Homo sapiens: one gene and its partners. The protein of the gene in region 1 purifies or fractionates together with the protein of each later gene. This does not show direct contact. Each region holds a gene or a part of one and is shown in the gene's direction. Other genes may lie near its edges.

Region 1 (5,797 bases):
TGTCAGAGTTATAACTTTTCCGAGAACTGTGTTTATGCTGTTTCCAACAAGCATAAACGAAGATAGTTTTATCTTTGGCTGTTACTCCAAGTGCTGCTTAACAGTGTAGTTCTTTCCTTCTATTCTAAATTTCATTTGCATTTTCTGTCTCCATTATTTTTACTGAAAGGACTTGAATAACATTAACTTTGTTTTGTATTTTGGAAATGTGGTGATTGGGCACAGAATATGTAGAGGCTGGTTTTAAAACAAAAATTCAGATGGCCATCTGAGTTTTTCACCAGATGAATTGAGTCGTCTGAGAAAAACTTTTTGATGTGGACGTTCCTATATAGTCTTTGGTGTTCTGATATGCAAAATGGTGTATTTTCCAACCTATGAATTATATGCGAGGTATTGTTTCTCATAGAAACAGTAAAAGATTAAAAACTTACACGCTGTGGTATCATCTGATATCAAGTGTAAAAGTGAATTTTCATATAACATTATTACTGATGTATACTATTTCATGGGTTACAAATGGAAAGTGAAACATTGAAAATCTCAGTATAGTTTTATTTGTGGTGAGTTTTTGCTGAATTTGAATTTTCCCACTAAGGATAGATTTTTAGGCTTTTAATGAGACGAACACATATCCTTTGTTGGTGTTTTCTGATACCACTTCTGACATCAAATATGTGGAGTTTTTCCACACTAACAATTTTCTAACACTAACTGGATGTACAACAATTCAGTTCAACTAACTCCCAGAGGTATCACTGAGTTTAAGGGCTCAGTCCCACAAGACTACCCACACTTCAGATATCAGTTGCAAGTCCCAGAAGCCACCTGAACTTCTCACTGACCAATTATAAACTTGTGAGTTCCCTTAATTTCTTTCTCAGTTTTGATAATTAGCCACAACTATTCACTGAACTCTGGAAAATACTTACTATATTTATGGGTTTATTATAAAAGATATAGCTCAGGGCCAGCCCACTGGAAGAGATGCAGAAGGCAAGGTATGGGATATACCACCTTCTCAGCACTTTGATGTTGTTTACCATCTGAATCTCTGTCATTTGAGTTTTTATAACCCAATCTCCAGCTTCCTTCCTCTCCTGTAAGTAGTGTTGAAAGTTATCACCCTCTAATCAAGGGTTTAGTTTTTCTGGTAACCAGCCCCCATTCTGAAGCCATCTAGGCGCCCCACTCTAAGTCACTTCATTAGTATGAACTCAGATATGGTCTAAAGGGCTTGTTATGAATAACTAAAGAAATTCTATTGCTTAGGAAATTCCAAGAGTTTTGGGAAATATGTGGCAAGAATTCAGGACAAAGACCAATTACAATATTATTATTATACCAAATTCTTGTTATGCTTCAATGTTAAGACGGTTTCTCTTTTGATTATATCGTTCATGCTATAATCTAATTAGTATATTGTTTATTGTGGAACATTTAATTAAAAAATGGAAAATACGTTTTTATTTTTAGCAAAAGTTTAAATTTATTGCTTTTTCTCTTACAGGTCACTGATGAATTGTTGGAAAAAATTGCATCAAGAAGTCAGAATATAATTGAAATCAACATTTCTGATTGTCGCAGTATGTCTGATAATGGCGTATGTGTTTTAGCATTTAAATGTCCTGGACTTCTTAGGTATACAGCCTACAGGTGTAAACAGCTTTCTGACACCTCTATTATTGCGGTTGCCTCTCACTGTCCTTTACTTCAGAAAGTGCATGTAGGCAACCAGGACAAACTCACTGATGAAGGACTCAAGCAGGTAAATTTTAGCATTTATAAAGTGATTTTACTTGAATTAATTAAAAATGTTTTCTAGCAACAACATTTTAAATGGTTACGTTAAAAATAGTTCCCAGAGACTCAAGTGAATCATCTTTTTTACCTATTAATGAATATTTGTTTAGATTAGTTAACTAGAGTGCCATGGTTATAATCAGTAAATTAACTGCTTTGTTTTATAGTGAGAGCCTGAACTTCTGTGACCAGCCATTTTATAAATTTATGCTTTTGTTACTTAAATTTTTTACCACATTTTGCTTTGGGCAACTGCGTAGTTTTGGTCAGCATGAGGTTTTAAAAATTAACATTTTAATTCCCCTTTTATTATACTAGATGACATACATGCTTAAATATCTGAATGTTTAAGGGATAAATGGACGTCCAAATTGAAGATTATAAAAGTTAGAACAAAGGCCTAATTACCTCTATTTGGTACAATAACTGGGTTAAAAATAGTATTATGCATACCTTCTGTTTATTATACTTCCTTTGGAAATGGCATTTAAGGTTTCTTGGCTCGGAGTGGATTATTTATTCAACAGATGAATATCCTTAAATTTAAACCTTATGTATGAATTAACTGAAAGCTTGGTATGAAAAGAAATTTGGGAAGACTCTATCCTAAATAGTGAGTACTGGGTGTGTCAGTACAACTTATATATTAAGAATGTTACCAACTTATAAGGGAGCCTATTTTGTTTGCAAAGGCATATTGTGCAAAAAGTCTTATTTGTTTTAATATTTTTCTTGATTCATTTCTGCTATGTACAGGATTATTTACTAGCAAAGCATTTCATGAAGTTCTTAAACATATTAAATTAATCTTTTATGAAGAAATATATATTTTGTGTATATAGCATGATTTTATTTACTTTGATGGAAATTTCTCAGCAATTTATTTTTCACAATGAAACATTTTAAAAAGGTGTATGTATTAAGAACTGGATTAAATCTATTTCATATTTAATTCTGATATAACACAAATAGGTAGTAGTTTAGCAGACTTCTTAGGGTATACCTAGTAATTTTTGTGAAAAAGAATAAGATCGTAGTCATGGTTGAAGTAGAGAAGGAGCAACATTTAATATGCTAATCAAGTATTATGAATTTATCTTATATTTACAACTTTGAGAGTAATTATGTAAATCTTCTCTAGAATGTGAGGTATTTTGGAGCCTGTTACTTAGATGTTTCCTTCGGATATTTATGGTTTCTGAATTATGAATTAGTTACACGTGAGGTAATATTCTGATAAAAGTAGCAAAACAAATTTTTTTCCCCTTAGGTAGTTTTCTTCTTAAGTAATTACATAGGATCTCATTGCAGTGTAGAGAATATTTTTCTGTACTTAAGACCGCTATAGCTGGGTATGTCTGATTTCATAATAGACTCTTTCCTCTGATGGAATAGTGTTATGGGTATAGTAGAAAGAGAATGGCTTTCATATATACATAAAATAGAAATTAAGTTTTATGAAACAATACACATCCTTATGTGCAATGCACATGGATATTATCTATTCTGTTCTATACTATTATGTTAAATGTTGGCCTTGACCCACTCACTAAATTAATTTTATGACCTAGTGATATTTCATAAATCCGAATATGGATTTATATTATGGTTTTAGTAAACTGACAGTGCTATGTTAAAATGTATAATAGAGTTACGAAAGCCTAAGAGGGAACTAGCCATAATTGATGATTTGCCTGGGACTGTTATTTTTTCTTGAACTCATTAATTTAGCAATTGACTGAATTGTTGATTCTACAGATTAAGTTGTTGCAGGGTTCTGTTTTTTCCCTCTTCTGTCAGTAAAAATTGAGAAATGTTTTAGAATGATATATGTAAATTTTATTGATAATTTCTTTAGAATATATTTTCTTTATAACTGCTATAATTTTGATTGACTTTAGCGGATACCAAATATGTGTGCCTTTTGAATTCTGTCAGTTTGTTTACAAAAACAGTTGCTTATAGCATTTCAATTTGGAGCTCTAATAGATGTAGACTCTAATGTTTTAACTATTGGATTCTGCTTAACAATATTTCTTAAGCATGGTGAAGCACCTAAAAAAATCAGGCTGGTTTTGGTTGAATACTATCCTCTTTGTGAAATACCACCCTGAAATATTTATATTTTTATTTTCATAATAGTCACTCAAAATAATTTTACCAGTGGAATGTGTTCCTATTGTATATATCTTTTAAAACTACAATCATGTATCTAGAGGAAAAATCTATTTAAGAATAAAGGGCTGTTTCAATTTTCCTAATATTTTGTTATCATCTAGCACTTGCCAGTAAACAAACGATAATAGTAGTCAAAGTATTAAAATATATCTAAGAAATTGTATGCATTGTTACTATATTATGTGACTCAATTATATGCAGTTTTAGCAGTTTAACACTCCAGCTCATGGAGCTCAGTAGAAATTTCTGTAAATAAGTCACTGTAGGCTTTTTTCAGATAAAATGGTACAAAAATAATAAATGTTACATTAGTAAATTTTGATCTGGCTATGCTATCAATTTTTAGGTCTTTAAAAATAACTACTTAGAGTACTATCAGCAAAATGTTGGAGCAGGCAGCTCCAAAAGCCTGCCTCTCCAAAAAAACATTGAAAAACAAGCCTAAACTATCAGATCCAACTTTGTCAGAACTCTGGAAACGTCAAAGGTTTATAGCAACCAAAGGAATGCTAGACAAGAAAAATGCAACTGAAAGGTGGAAAGAATGCTTTGTGGGTTTTTTACTTGCCTGTGCCTCACCCATTCCCCAGCTTGGCAACAGTCTTGAAGATAGCAGTCCGAGTTCCCAGTGTGGGACCCAGATCCCTGGTTCCAGAGGGAACAGAGCAGACCTTATTTGCAAATTATTCATTTGTCTGATCAACCTACCTGAGAGCTATTTGAAGGGCTGATGCAGGTGCTTATATATCTGTTTTACCTAATTTAGAACCCAGTCAGGGAGGAAAATTAGTGGGCATTGATTGAACACAGTATAAGGCAAATGAAAGAAACTTGCTTTTGAGCAAGCTTCTTTGGGCAATAGATTATGGTGAGACATACAATTGACCTAGGAGAAAGAGCCTGGGAGAGAGTTTGTTTTTATTTTTGTTTTTGTTTTGAAATTAGGACAATCAGCCTCAGTGTATAGAAGGGAATTTTGAAAGCCGCATGCATGCCCAGGGCAGGACACTTGTTCAGGAACGACCTAAGAAGACTGTAAACTTTATCACTGTGTGCTTGCTAGGTCCAGTACAAGCAGGAAGTAAAGGCCAAGGCAGAGTTGTGAATGGTATGGCTAAGTCTTAAAGAAATATCCCAGCACAGAGCCAGTCTGCAAAGACTTGAATAAGTGCTTTTGTTTTTTGTTTTAGTTTTGTTTTTAAGCTTTGGCATCCAAGGAAATCTCTTTCAAAACACTGGCTGAACACAAGCTAAGCCTTGATTAATCAAAAATAGTGAAGCGTAGGGAAGTGGGGAGAATCTAATTTCCCAAGTTACCACATTATAATCTAATATTTTAATATTTAGTTTTCAACAATAAATTACAAGGCATGCAAAGAAAAAAGTATTACCCATTAAAACAAAAAAGAATAAATAGAACCCATTCTTGAGGAAGCCTGGACATTGGATTTACTAAAGATTTTACTAAAGATTTTAAATCCATTATCTGAAATATGCTCAAAGACATAAAGGAAACCATGGCCAAAGAAATGAAGGAAATTAGGAAAATAATGTATGAACAAATTGAGAATGTCAATGAAGAGCTAGAAATTATGGAAAGAACCAAATAGAAATTCTGGAGCTAAGAAGTACAATAACTGAAATAAAACATTTACCAGAGGGATTCAAGAGCCGAAGTGAGCAGGTGGAAGAAAGAAGATAGGACAATTGAATTTATTGAGTCTAAGAAAGAGAAAGAAAAAAGAGTGAAGAAAAGTAAGTAGAGCCTAAGAGATGGGTGGGACATCCATCAAGCAGAAAAACATTCACATTTTGC
Region 2 (4,648 bases), on another chromosome or scaffold:
AGGGATATTCTTCTGTCTCCTTTTTCTTTTGAGATGGGGTCTCACTCTGTCACCCAGGCTGGCCTGAATCTCATGGGCTCAAGCGATCCTCCCACAGCCTCTCAAATTACTGGGATGACAGGCACGAGCCACTGTGCCTGGCCTATTTCCTTATTCTTACATGTTGTGAATAATATTTAATTGTAGATACTAGAACATCTAATGTGTCTTTTGGTACTAGTTTTCCAAGTATTTTGAGCAAGTCAGAAGTATGTATTGGCATTTGCTAGATAACATTTATTCTACAAGTAATTGTAGGGCATGTGTCTTAAACAATAGAAAAACCAAGGCAAGTAAGATAGGCGCAGGAGTTTGTACTGATTTAGACAAGAAATATGGATCATAAAGCTCAAACTTTGTTTAGAGATGTGAAACTAACAGTAGGTTGACCTCCACAGGCTACCACTTCCGTTCCATTCTTTATCCCTCACACAGAAATGCTTCACTTTAGGATTCTTACAACTTACTCCCAAACACTAATTAGGTGCAGCTATAATGAGTTATAGTTGAATTTATGTAGCTATGGGTTCAGGGGGCTTTCTTTACATCAAAAACCGGTGACGGTATTCCAAGTACAGCACAGTTTACAGTAATAGTAATGATGTGCAGTTTTAAAATATTTTAGAGACATTTTTACTTTGTTGGGTATTAAGACTTTCACCAAAAAGGAATCTTAAGTTATCTTAATTTTTAAGAGGGACAGCATGTCTGAGAACATATATGGGAAGTGATTCTTAGGAAATCCATTTGGGTAAACATTCTTTACTTTTAAAACCGTGATGCCCATGGGAGGAAAATGTATTATTGCTGCTTGAGTGAACTGTATCTTGGCAAGGAGTGTTTTAGGCAGAGGAAAGCTTAAGCACTTTGAATTGGGAGCATGCTTATTATGGACGAGGAACAGAACAGAGGTCAGTATAGTTGGAATAGAGTGACTGAAAGGAAAGGGTGGTTGGAAGCCAGGGCTCCACCGGGTAAAGCTTTGGAGGATATTGAAAGTCTCTAGCTTTTACTGTGAGGGTGGGTAGTCTTTGCAGCCTTGTAAGCTGAGTGGTGACCTGACTTAAGGTAGTGTTTTAAAGAATCTGTGATTTCTCTGCTGAGAACAGACTCTAGGAAGGCAACAGTGGAAGTAGGGAGACAAGTTTTTGGTGGCTACTGAAGACAGTCCAGGGGCTAGAGCTCATGATTGATTGGATCAGGGTGGCAATAGTTGTGGAAGATTCTGGATATATATTCCTATTGCCAAAAGGTTCCTGGTCCAAGGAATTACATTAAAGATGGAATTAAATCCAGTGGATATAATTCCTGTCCTTGCTAATCTGAAGATCCTTAGGCACATGTATTATTCTATTTTGATTCTATCTTCTGCACGTTATTTTATTTAAGGATGGAGTTAGAAAGAAATTTCAGGGAACCCTGAGAGCATTCAGTTACCTTGCCCTAATATGTCTGAAACAAGGATCTAGTAATAGAACTTTACATTTTTAATTATCCTATATATATTCTTTATTCTTAGTCTATTTTTCTGTACCAATTAATCTTAAAATTATGTGCCTGTCCTGGATTCGTAATAAGGAGAATATCCCATTTGATAGCTGGGCTTTAGGGTGATAAAATCTTAAGTGATAGAGTAGTTAGAAAAAGCAACTATTAGGAGTTCTGGTTTGAATATACCCATCCTTTAAAAGGGTAATTTCTTGTGGCGTCTGCACAATTAAATGATATTCATGTTTTTTTCTCCCGCCCGCCACCTTTTTTTTTTTTTTTTTTTTTTTTTGAGACATGATCCCACTGTGTCGCCCTGGCTGGAGTGCAGTGGCGCAATCTTGAATCACTGCAACTCCCGGGCTCAAATGATCTTCCCCAGTAGCTGGGACTGCAGGCACACACCACCATGCCCAGCTAATTTTTAAAATTTTTTTGTAGAGATGGAGATGGAGTTTCTCCATGTTGCCCAGGCTGGTTGCAAACTCCTGGGCTCAAGTGATCCTTCTGCCTCAGCCTCGCAAAGTGCTGGGATTATATGCATGAGCCACTGTGCCTGGCCCATGATTAATTTTTTTAACTGAATTTCTTCTACTATAGTTGAATGGTATTTTGTTTAATTGTGATAATAAAGTAGGAAGACATCTCAATTTTAGACTAAAATACAGTTTTATTTAACTCATACTATGAAATTCTATCATAATGCCTGTAGGATATAAATATAATTTCTGTTTTCTGACTCTGATGAGAGACAGATCTTTATTACCATTATTAATTCAGAATTTTTACTTGTACTAGGTACTTCACATGATTTCAAGTATGGTTTGATGCCTGGTCCTTCAAATGATTTCAAGTATGGATTGATACCAGGTACTTCAAATGATTTCAAGTATGGATTGATACCAGGTGCTTCAAATGATTTCAAGTATGGATTATTGCCAGAATCTTGGCCAAAACAAGAAACCTGGGAAAATGGCAAGTATTAGTCAACTAAACAAATACAGAATTAATTAAATAATTGTTAACAATTAAAAGCTTTCATGTTCTGCATTTTTTAAAAACCAAGTAGCAGTAGCTCCACATAATTGCTGTTCTCAGAGATAGAGATAAGAAGTTTTGATAGCAAGTTTTCTGTTTAATGTGTAATAAGCACTTTCTCTTTTTTTAATTCTCATAGGTGAATCATCTCTAATCATGAACAAGTTAAAATGCCCTCATTGTAGCTATGTAGCCAAATACAGACGAACACTAAAAAGGCACTTGCTCATTCACACAGGAGTGAGATCATTTAGCTGTGATATTTGTGGAAAACTGTTTACTCGAAGAGAACATGTAAAAAGACATTCCCTGGTAAGTAACTTTAAATACAGCTGATCTTTGAGATAAACTATATTTATGTCAGTGAAGTTTAAAGGGATTTAAACAGTTAATTGTGAATTTAAGGAAGATTGTCTCCTAAATTGCTTTAAACAGTTTGACTTTATGAACTGATAGTGAGCTTTTTACAGAGAAACTGGTGTATTCACTCACTATTAAATGTGTGGTTTAATTTGAGTGGTTCAAATGCATTCTATTATATATAATATCCTTATATTGGATTTTTTCCCCCTCCAATTAGGTGCATAAAAAGGATAAAAAATACAAATGTATGGTGTGTAAGAAGATCTTCATGTTAGCAGCCAGTGTTGGAATAAGACATGGATCTCGACGTTATGGTGTTTGTGTAGACTGTGCAGATAAATCACAGCCAGGAGGGCAAGAAGGTGTAGATCAGGGACAGGATACAGAATTCCCTCGGGATGAAGAATACGAGGAGAATGAAGTAGGAGAAGCTGATGAAGAGCTAGTTGATGATGGAGAAGATCAGAATGATCCCTCTCGATGGGATGAATCAGGAGAAGTTTGTATGTCTCTAGATGATTAACTGACCTACTATACTCCTCAAGGATGCTGCATTTGGACCTAATATGAATCGACAATTTGGATTGTTGAACTTGAAGGCTTGCAAAATATGGTACATGCTGGATAGTAGTTATGTTGCTGTGAAAACTGTAGGGTCAAAGCCTTATAGCAAAAAAAATTTTTTTTTATATTTGCACAGGACTATACAGCAAACAACCATGTGGTTGGATTACATGGAGTCCCCACATACTCAGTCAGTTATCAAAGTAAAATATTTTTTATTTATAGGATATACAGTAACTATTTGGGTCCTATGAAAATAGTCCTTAAAGAGCTTACATTCATGTGCTACTTTAACATGAATGGAGAAAATCCGTTTATGGAAGTACAGTGACAATTGACCCAATCACTCTGTCCATCAAACCACTCAGGCTAGTTTGTACTAGTAGAGTTTTGTTTCTATTTTTATTTTTATTAATTTTATTTTTTTTAATACAGATTTTCAGTGAGGGGCTTTTTCAACCCCATTGGTTCTATTTTCTTGTATTTTTCCATTTAATTTGCTTCATAACTTAAACCAAGTCTCTTCTAGTCTTAGGTATTATTTCTCGATTTTGTGCTGATGGGCATGTTTATAAGAACTGGAGAGGTAATTTATTGGAATGAACTAACTGACTTCCTCCATTCCCCTCTTCCTTTTTGACATGAATTTTACTACTTCACAAATGAAGAATGATGTTATGAAGTTACCGTGGCGAAGTTGACAAATACCACTAAAATGATTATGATTTAGAAGTAACTTTCTTCTGCTGCTCTAATCTGATAAATGGTTACTATATGATATTTTCTGACATGGTATTTGGTTTTGGGTATCTGTTACTTTGGCACTATTCTTGTTTGCCTCTTTATTTTTGCCAGTGTACTATACCTCAGTCCTATTTGAAAGACCTAATTGAAAGAAAAATCATAGAAATAAGTAAAATGATTTGTTTTATAATTTATCCACCATGTCCAGTTTGGTTAGCTTGTTATGCAATATAAGTGAAATATCAGGTTTTTACCCGTGTCCCTTTTATCATGAAAATTAACACAAAATGTGCATTCTCTTTTGTTTCATACTTAGCGGGATATTGATTGTTTTGAAATTATGATCAATACTTAATTTATTTTTTTCTGTCCTTGAAGTCACTACACCTTGATACAGTCTTTCTAGTAGTCA
Region 3 (3,692 bases), on another chromosome or scaffold:
GCATATCTTTCCGATAGATCAAGCACTATTCCTGCAATGAAGGATGATGGTATTGGGTATAAGGTTGACACTGGAAAAGAACCTCCAGTAGGGACCACTACATCTACTCAGAACAAGCCAATGACCTGGGAAGATATTTTTATTCAGCAGGAAAATGATTCAATTTTTAAACAAAATGTAACAGATGGCAGTACTGAGTTTGAATTTATAATACCAGAGTCTTACTAAACTCCTTTGAAATACTAGAAAGTTTTGTTTTGGATGATGGGGCAGGGGTTTCAGAAGATCTGTAAAACAAATTAAGGTGCGAACAAGTTAATTTGATCTGCCACATTATCTGAAGGAAGTGTAGTGGGATTTTTGTTGATAATTTTTAGAAGCAAATTTTCCTGAAAGTTTTGAGTAGAGGTGAGACCCCCTCCCCAAGTATCTGTTTATATAGTTAGTTTTCAGCTCATTTAAAAGAGGCAAAAATTAAAAGCTTGGAGAGATAGTTTCCTGAATAGAATTTGAAGCAGTCTGAATGTTCTTTGAAAATAACTGGAGTTATTAGCATACCCTAGTACATCTTACAGCTTTCCCCTTCCATGTTAGCACTTTACTGCTGAATTCTCAATTTTCTTAACATTGAGACAATAAATGTGTGTTTTGTCTTGTATATGGCATAAAGAGTAAATAAGTTTTAGAGTTGTTCTGGAAAATGTCAGAATAAGTCAGTACTTGGGTTGTGTAATCTGCTAGTCCAAGCGAACAGCAACCTCCTGCTACCCTCCCTCTATGAAAATAGCCATGCAGACAAGTCTCTCATCTGAAGAACAAATTAGATTTAGCTAATTAGAATTAATCCTGGCTTTCATTGCCATAGTCTGTAAAAGACTTTGGTGGCTAGACCACTTTATACCTTCGCAGTGTGGTCTCTGGGGGCAAAAAACTAATGAAAACAATCTCTGTAATGGCAGATAGGAGGAGATGAAAAGTTCTGTTGCATGGATTTTTAATTCTCTGGCTACCACATAGTAGAGAATGGAATGAAGATTTCCTTTTGGCTTCTTAAGGTTAAAAATATTCCCATGAACATGAAAATTTTCAAATTTTGAATCTGAAAGCCACCAAATGTATCTTTATGTATAAATCCTTGTAAATGATAGATTCCATGGGTGAGACTTTACATATTTTGGGTGGGAGGCTACTGGCATATATTTTTAAATGTTCATATTGCGTAGAATCTCCACTAGGAAGTCTTTATTTGAAATAGTTGAATCAGTGATCTAGTATTTTCCTTTCGGCAAGATTTGTTAGGTTTTTACCCCTTCTAAAATAAGTTTTATTCCATCTGCAAATTGCTGCAATATTATAGTAATCAGAAACTACATAAGGAATGTTATATAGGCTTGTCAGTTCCCATTTTTCTTGACAACAATAAATACCACTTTTAAAAATGACACATATTTAAACACTTAGAAAATAAAGTTAACACTTACTGAAGTGCTAGTACTAAACTGTGCTAGTACTAAAAGAAAACAGGTTGGAACATACATATAGCCTAGCATTTATAACAGAATTGTTGAACGTCTGTAAATGATTTTTTTTTTTTTTGCAAAGGAAAAAATTGATACTGGAAAAGATTGTTGTGCATAGTTATTAGTCATTTGTAACCTTGCTTAAGTATTTCTTAGTCCAACATAGATATTTTCTTTCTCCTGACCATGTATTTTAAAATATAGTCTATTTCTTGACTTTGAACTTAAAGCTTTAATCATAATTTCTCATGTATACATCGTTCTTCTGATGGTAAGCTGGATTTGAAGGTAGTGGTTTCAGTGTTTCTTAAGTTGGTAGCTGAGGGTATCAGGCATCAGTTCATGCAATAATACAAGAAAAAAAATCCTTTGCTTGCCAAGAGGTAGAGTGATGTGCATTTATCTGTTTTCTGTTCTGTAAGTCTAGACCTTCAAACCATTTGTAAACTAACCCCTGGGAAATTTGAAATTACCTGATAACTTAAGACTCTGTGATCTCTGGAATCACCATATGTTTCTTTTTTGTGTAGATATTAATAACATTACTCTTTGACTATAGTGTGCACTCTGAAATGTACTCAGTGAAAATTTGTTTTGAGTTTCATTAATGCTATTTCACCAGTTAGACATAATTACTTCTACCGATGTGAATGATACGGATGCCGGCAGAGCTTCCAGATCTTTCAGACTCAACTGCTAGGTCAATTAGTTTGTCATAATAAAACTTGGCAGATTCTACAAGTCTATTATGACAAACCAGGAACTAATTCTATAATGGAAAACTATCCATTCTGAATAATAGGTATGTAATTATTTGCTGCTGCTGCTGTGCTCTGTAAATTCTGAATATGACATTTAAACTCTGTGCCTACTAAAGGTATCTTCTGGAGTTTTTGGGAGGAGAGAAACTGGAAAATTAAATTGTATTTTTGCCAGAAGACTCTTACTTGCATGTGTCTCAGGGTCTTCAGTTTTTCTATAAGTTTCCATATCCAAAGTTCAGAATTCATGTGAAATACTTCTTTGGGGCAAAAGTCCTTCATTCCTGGTATTTATTGGATTGGAAATCTGTAGCAAGATGCTGTTTAAAATTACCATATTGTTTTTTTATCTTATACTTAGCTCTCTGGCTATTGAACTTCCTTTTCTTGTTTGAAGTTAGCTTCAAATTTGCTCCTATGCTAAATTACCTGTAAATATTCTGGATAGGAACTACTTGAAATAGTAATTTGTTAAAAGATATGACAAAATGAAAATGCTTAAACTACAGAAATTTAAAAATGCCATAACAATCTTGCGAGACTAACTTTAAAATATACTTTAAATGATTATTATGATTTTGGTGGTAACGATCCCCCACACACAACCACTATGAAGAAATAATGCCGCATTTTTCCCCCATTGTACCAAAAAGATAAAAAAATGGTAAACACTGATCAAGGTATTTTGTATTGTCAAGGCATGCATATTCTAAAGAATTAAATGCTAACTTAACAGCACTGGCTTTCTGGCTGGTCAACTATATGAAACCTTGTTCATTCCTCCGAGTACTGTAATGTTCACACTTGTACAATCTTCCCTGTCATGACTTTAAGTTCTACTTTTCATTAACCATGGCCTGATATTAGTTCTTAGAGCTTCTTGTGGCAAAAATAAAATGATTTAATTCTGATGTTTGAGTGCGTGTTTTACAAGATTGTCTTTCAGAAATTATATGGGTTTTTATATTGTTTTTCAATTTTTATAGCAGGAGACTGGGGCTGTATTTCTGATGACAGCACGGCAAAATTTCCCACTAGGTTTTATATGTTGGTTAAAAATGTCCCCTTTTATCTTGAACCCTAATAGTCAAAAGTGAGTCAGCTGCTGTCAGTTGCTTTAGAGCGTTTGCTGTACTTTTATAGCTACCTTGACACAAGTGGATAACGAGGGGAGGATAGTTTTATTCATTTGAAACATCACAAAAGCAGTCTGAGTTTTCAACATGGCAGTGATACAGATTTTAAGCAACATCCAGTTTATACAGTTTCTGGATTAATATTTTAATGTTTCATGCCCAGTTCAGTACTTTAAAGCAGAATTAGGAATAAAGCAGTAAATATTACAAAATGCAGTCAAGATACATATTGGAAATACAAATCCATTCATTACAGCAAATGTTTTGCAAAAGAG
Region 4 (4,648 bases), on another chromosome or scaffold:
AGGTGCTTTATTGAATGTAGACACTCTTTTTGCTTTAATGATTACATAAGTATACATTCATATTGTGTGAAGTAGTAGTTCTTTCGCATTGCTGTGTAATATTCCATTGTATAAATATATGTTGTATAGCCGTAAGTACGGCGCAATTTATTCTAACAGTGGACATCTGGGTTATTTCTAGTTATTAGCTAACAAAAAGCTTCTGTGAATACTCTTGTACATGTATTTTGGTGAACACATGCATTTCTTTTGGTTGTATGTACCTAGGAGAAGAATTGCCTAGGATAGTCATGTGGCTAGTATTAGTACCTTGGTTTTTAATGTATGGCTCTTGGACCAGCATTATCAGCATCACCTGGCAATTCATTAGAAGTGCAGCCGGGCGCGGTGGCTCACGCCTATAGTCCCAGCACTCTGGGAGGCCGAGGCAGGCGGATCACGAGGTCAGGAATTCGAGACCAGCCTGGCCAACATGGTGAAACCCCGTCTCTATTAAAAATACAAAAAATTAGCCGGGCATGGTGGTGGGCAGCCGTAATCAGCTACCTGCGAGGCTGAGGCAGGAGAATCACTTGAACCCTGGAGGTGGAGGTTACAGTGAGCTGAGATCGCGCCATTGCACTCCAGCCCAGGCGACAGTGAGGCCAGGCCATCAAAGGCATTAAATCCCAGCACAGGGTTTTCAGTTTTATCATATGATTATGGAGATCCGTCAAGAATTTGGAGGAAGGAAAATGAAATTTTCTGAATTACAAAACCTACTTTAAAAGCAGAGTAGATAGCGAATTGGAGGAGGCACAAGGGATAGTGGATAGCAGGAAGATGGTAGTGCAGACCGGGTCAAAGATGAATATTTGCATGTAGGGCAGTGATTGAGGGCATGGAGGTGAGTTGTTTTATGTAAAATGCACCGGACTTGGTGACGATTAGAATATAAGGGATGTCTCCTGAGTTTCTGGCTGGGGGAATGTTGTAGGAACTGGTGCCATTCATTTAGATAGCACTTAGGATGATAGCACTTAGAAGATTGCCTTCAGCATGGGGGAATAGGTTTGAGGATAGAAAGTAGTTTTAGATTGTGAATATTTGTATATGAGTTGCCTCTGGGACATTTCAGGTAAAGTTTAGAGAAAACTATATGCTGATGTTGCCCAGGACCACTGTCTAGGCTCAAGATAGACTTGAGTCATCAGCATGCATCAACACATATGTGAAGCCCCCCAGTAGTTAAGGAATCAAAGAATGTTTGTAGAGGGGAAGAAGTCTTAAGTACTGAGCCCAAGGAGAACATTAGTTTTTAAGAGGCAGCAGAATGGTAAGCTGAAAGGCCTGGTTATTATTGTCAAGGGCCACAGAGAGATCAAGTCAGATAGGAATCAGTTGGATTTTATAAGGGGTTATTAGTGACTTTGAGAAGATTAAGACTAGAGAGGCAAATATTTTTGTATTCTATGGCAAAGGAGATGCAGTCAAAGTAGAGACTGGGGAAAAGGCTGAAAAAAGTCTGCAAGAAGAAAAATCAATACTTTTCATTGAGTGATTACTGGATGTCACATACAGATCTAGGCAAGCCCAACACCCTGGAGTCATCTTCAGTTTCTCTTATCCCACATGTTCACCCATTAGCAAGTCTCTCTGCTTCTAATATGTTCCAACTTAATCGTATTTCTTTTCATCACCTCTGTGGCTAACATCCTTTTCTAGCCTAGACTTAATGTAATAGTTTCCTAAGAAGTCTCCGTTTCCAGTCTTGATTTGATAATGTATTTACCATACTGCAGCCAGAATGACATTAAAAAAAAGTAAATTGGACCATGTTCCCCTTACTAACAGTGAACTTTCCATGGCTTTCCATCAAACGTAAGGTCCAAATTCCTTATAACTGCCTGCAAGCTACAAAGTGAGGCCCTTAAAGTAGCATCTTACAGCTTCTTTGCTCTCTTGATTTGAGCCTTACTTTCTGTTGATTGACTGTAACCCCATGTGAGTTGAGGAGCATCTGTATATGTTGCTTTCTGAGAGTCACACTACTAGGTTAAAGCAAAGTCAATGATACATGTGGCTCTTGAAATAATTTTACCATTTAAGAAAACTACCAAATCCCTAGAGTTTGTAGGCAGTTGGCAGAAAATAAAAGTGTTCCTGCACTTGTCTTTGATCTCCCTAATTGTGTAATCTCTTACATCATTATTTTTCCAGCTACCACACCTATATGTTGTGACTGCACAAGTTAAAAAAGTTTCAATCTCTAATGTTAACTCTTGGTAGTTGACATAGCCATCTATTAGATTGTATCTGGGCTTTGAACAGAATATTTAGTTGGGTTTTATTAGAGTTGTGTGCTATTGTTAGAGGCTAGGAGAGGGCCAGGTACACTTGATTGTGTATGTATTGATTGTCTTAACCTCCCTGAGTGCTAGATTTAACTTCTGGTCTTTTTTTATTGCACAGCTTAACATTTTCTAGGAATCTCAAATTCTATATGGTGTTTGAATCTTCTTCAAATTAGTAGGAGGAAATCTGTAATGGTCAATGTGTAACAATTAAACTCTTCAGAATATATGAGCTGATAATAATGATCATTTATTAAGTTCTATAGACCAGGAACTAAAAGCTTTACGGTACAGAGATGCTACATTAGATTGCCTACTTTTGGGAGGAGGGGCAAGAGAAGTGGGGGAGATATTGATCCTTTTATAAGGAAAAACTCCAATATTATATCCGTGTTATCTTTCCTCCAAATAGCTTCTGACAATAAGTTACTTGATTAAAAATTATGTTTTAATTAGAATTTGATGGCTTCTTACAAACTTTTACTGACGCTCCACATGTTTGTTTTTGTAGGAGCTGACTAAGGCTTTGGAACAGAAACCAGATGATGCACAGTATTATTGTCAAAGAGCTTATTGTCACATTCTTCTTGGGAATTACTGTGGTAACGTTTCTTATAAAGTATATTGCCCCCTTTTAATAAGTTACTTATACATTTTACCCATGACAAATTAAAAGTTGTCTTTGAGAATTTTTAAATTGGTCTTTTATACAAGGTAAAGTAGCTCAAATGTGACAGACATGTTGAGCAACACCCATTTAAATTTTATGGATGTCGCTTTTTCCTTCATTGGGTGGAGAATGTATACAGATTTCATTCATAGTTATTGGGTATGCTGATAAAAAATAGCATCACATTTACTATTTGACAGACTATTAAAATGAAATGCTCGTTTAAATTTTTTTTATAAAAAAGAATGTGGCCAGGCATGGTGGCTCACGCCTGTAATCCCAACACTTTGGGAGACCAAAGCAGGAGGATCATTTGAGCCCAGGAGTTCAAGACCAGCCTGGGCAACATAACAAGACCACCTGTATTTAAAAAGTAATGTATTTCTGTATTTTGTACCTTCTGAATAGGGAAAAACTGAATACCTTGAGTAAAATTACATAGAAAATGTTAATGAGACAAGGAGGTGAATTTTGTGACACAGCTGTATTCATTGAAGAGCTTTAAGAAGGAAGCTAAATGTTAAGCCAAAAGGAAGGTACAAGAGTAATATTTATTTGAATTCTATCTTGTATTAGCTTTTCCTAATTTAAAACCATTTGGCATTTCTACCAACTTGAAAACTTAGAAATCTAAAACTGATTCATATGTTGTGTGTATTTGCTAGGATCTATAAATAACTGACTAAAAACCCGTCTTTTTCTACACAGTTGCTGTTGCTGATGCAAAGAAGTCTCTAGAACTCAATCCAAATAATTCCACTGCTATGCTGAGAAAAGGGTATGCAGTAGCTACTCTTCTTGTTGAGCTTGGTATAGATAGTAGGTATTTAATTTGTTGAATGAGTTCATTGCAAGCTTTATATAAGTTGTAAAATTCTGTATTTATACATTATATAGCAGAGATATGATTCAATTTTAAATACAACTTATAGTTCTATTATTTTGTTAACCAAAGTATGTGATAGGAGATCTGTACTTAGTAAATTTTAAAATAGTGATGATTGAAGTATTTGCAAGGTATAGATGAAACTGATAGATTTCACATTGCTTTTTTTTTTTTTTTTTTCAATCTTTTGGAATTTACTATATTTAATTGACTGGACAACATCCTATTCAGCAAAGCTGAATAGGCTACATTTAATGCTATGAAAGCGCTATATCTGTATACTTTATATCCCATCTTGTTTCTGTTGATAAGTATAACTATTCTTTAAGAAACTTCTTTAATTCCTTTGTATAATTATATTTTTGAGTAAGCAAGTCTGTACAATTAAAGTCAGATTCCTTCTGAAGTGAGTTCTAAAATTGAATTTTAGTAGGAATTGTACTAGATCTTAACAGTATATTAGAAAGTCTCTAGGTTTATTAACATACACTTAAAATAAATTTTTTCTTTCAACAGTAGAAAATACTAAGTTTTTTATTTAGAAAGAAGGTATTTTCCAGATTTTTTGTGTGTCTTAATTTGTTTTAAATATATTCATGCAGAATATGTGAATACCATGAAAAAAACTATGCTGCTGCCCTAGAAACTTTTACAGAAGGACAAAAATTAGATAGTAAGTATTAAAAATTATACTTTAATAAACTTATCTATTTCTGTCTTAAATACCAAAGCTGAATTTTGGTAATGTTAATTTCAAGT

What was found. The genes of interacting proteins can lie anywhere in the genome.
Region 2: the proteins of FBXL17 (region 1) and ZBTB10 purify together in Homo sapiens (affinity purification with western blotting; 3 studies listed by BioGRID and IntAct, with this or other methods). This does not show direct contact.
Region 3: the proteins of FBXL17 (region 1) and ZBTB33 purify together in Homo sapiens (affinity purification with mass spectrometry; 2 studies listed by BioGRID and IntAct, with this or other methods). This does not show direct contact.
Region 4: the proteins of FBXL17 (region 1) and SUGT1 purify together in Homo sapiens (co-immunoprecipitation; 2 studies listed by BioGRID and IntAct, with this or other methods). This does not show direct contact.

What each region holds. Positions count from the first base shown.
Region 1 is NC_000005.10:108,360,709-108,366,505, reverse strand, and holds part of FBXL17 (F-box/LRR-repeat protein 17), read left to right. Parts: intron 1-1,510; coding exon 1,511-1,768; intron 1,769-5,797. UniProt on the Homo sapiens protein: Substrate-recognition component of the SCF(FBXL17) E3 ubiquitin ligase complex, a key component of a quality control pathway required to ensure functional dimerization of BTB domain-containing proteins (dimerization quality control, DQC).
Region 2 is NC_000008.11:80,516,078-80,520,725, forward strand, and holds part of ZBTB10 (zinc finger and BTB domain-containing protein 10), read left to right. Parts: intron 1-2,325; coding exon 2,326-2,502; intron 2,503-2,704; coding exon 2,705-2,877; intron 2,878-3,145; coding exon 3,146-3,451; 3' UTR 3,452-4,648. UniProt on the Homo sapiens protein: May be involved in transcriptional regulation.
Region 3 is NC_000023.11:120,255,207-120,258,898, forward strand, and holds the end of ZBTB33 (transcriptional regulator Kaiso), read left to right. Parts: coding exon 1-228; 3' UTR 229-3,192; downstream 3,193-3,692. UniProt on the Homo sapiens protein: Transcriptional regulator with bimodal DNA-binding specificity.
Region 4 is NC_000013.11:52,654,688-52,659,335, forward strand, and holds part of SUGT1 (protein SGT1 homolog), read left to right. Parts: intron 1-2,844; coding exon 2,845-2,935; intron 2,936-3,411; exon of another isoform or gene 3,412-3,520; coding exon of another isoform or gene 3,521-3,539; intron 3,540-3,711; coding exon 3,712-3,781; intron 3,782-4,491; coding exon 4,492-4,562; intron 4,563-4,648. UniProt on the Homo sapiens protein: May play a role in ubiquitination and subsequent proteasomal degradation of target proteins.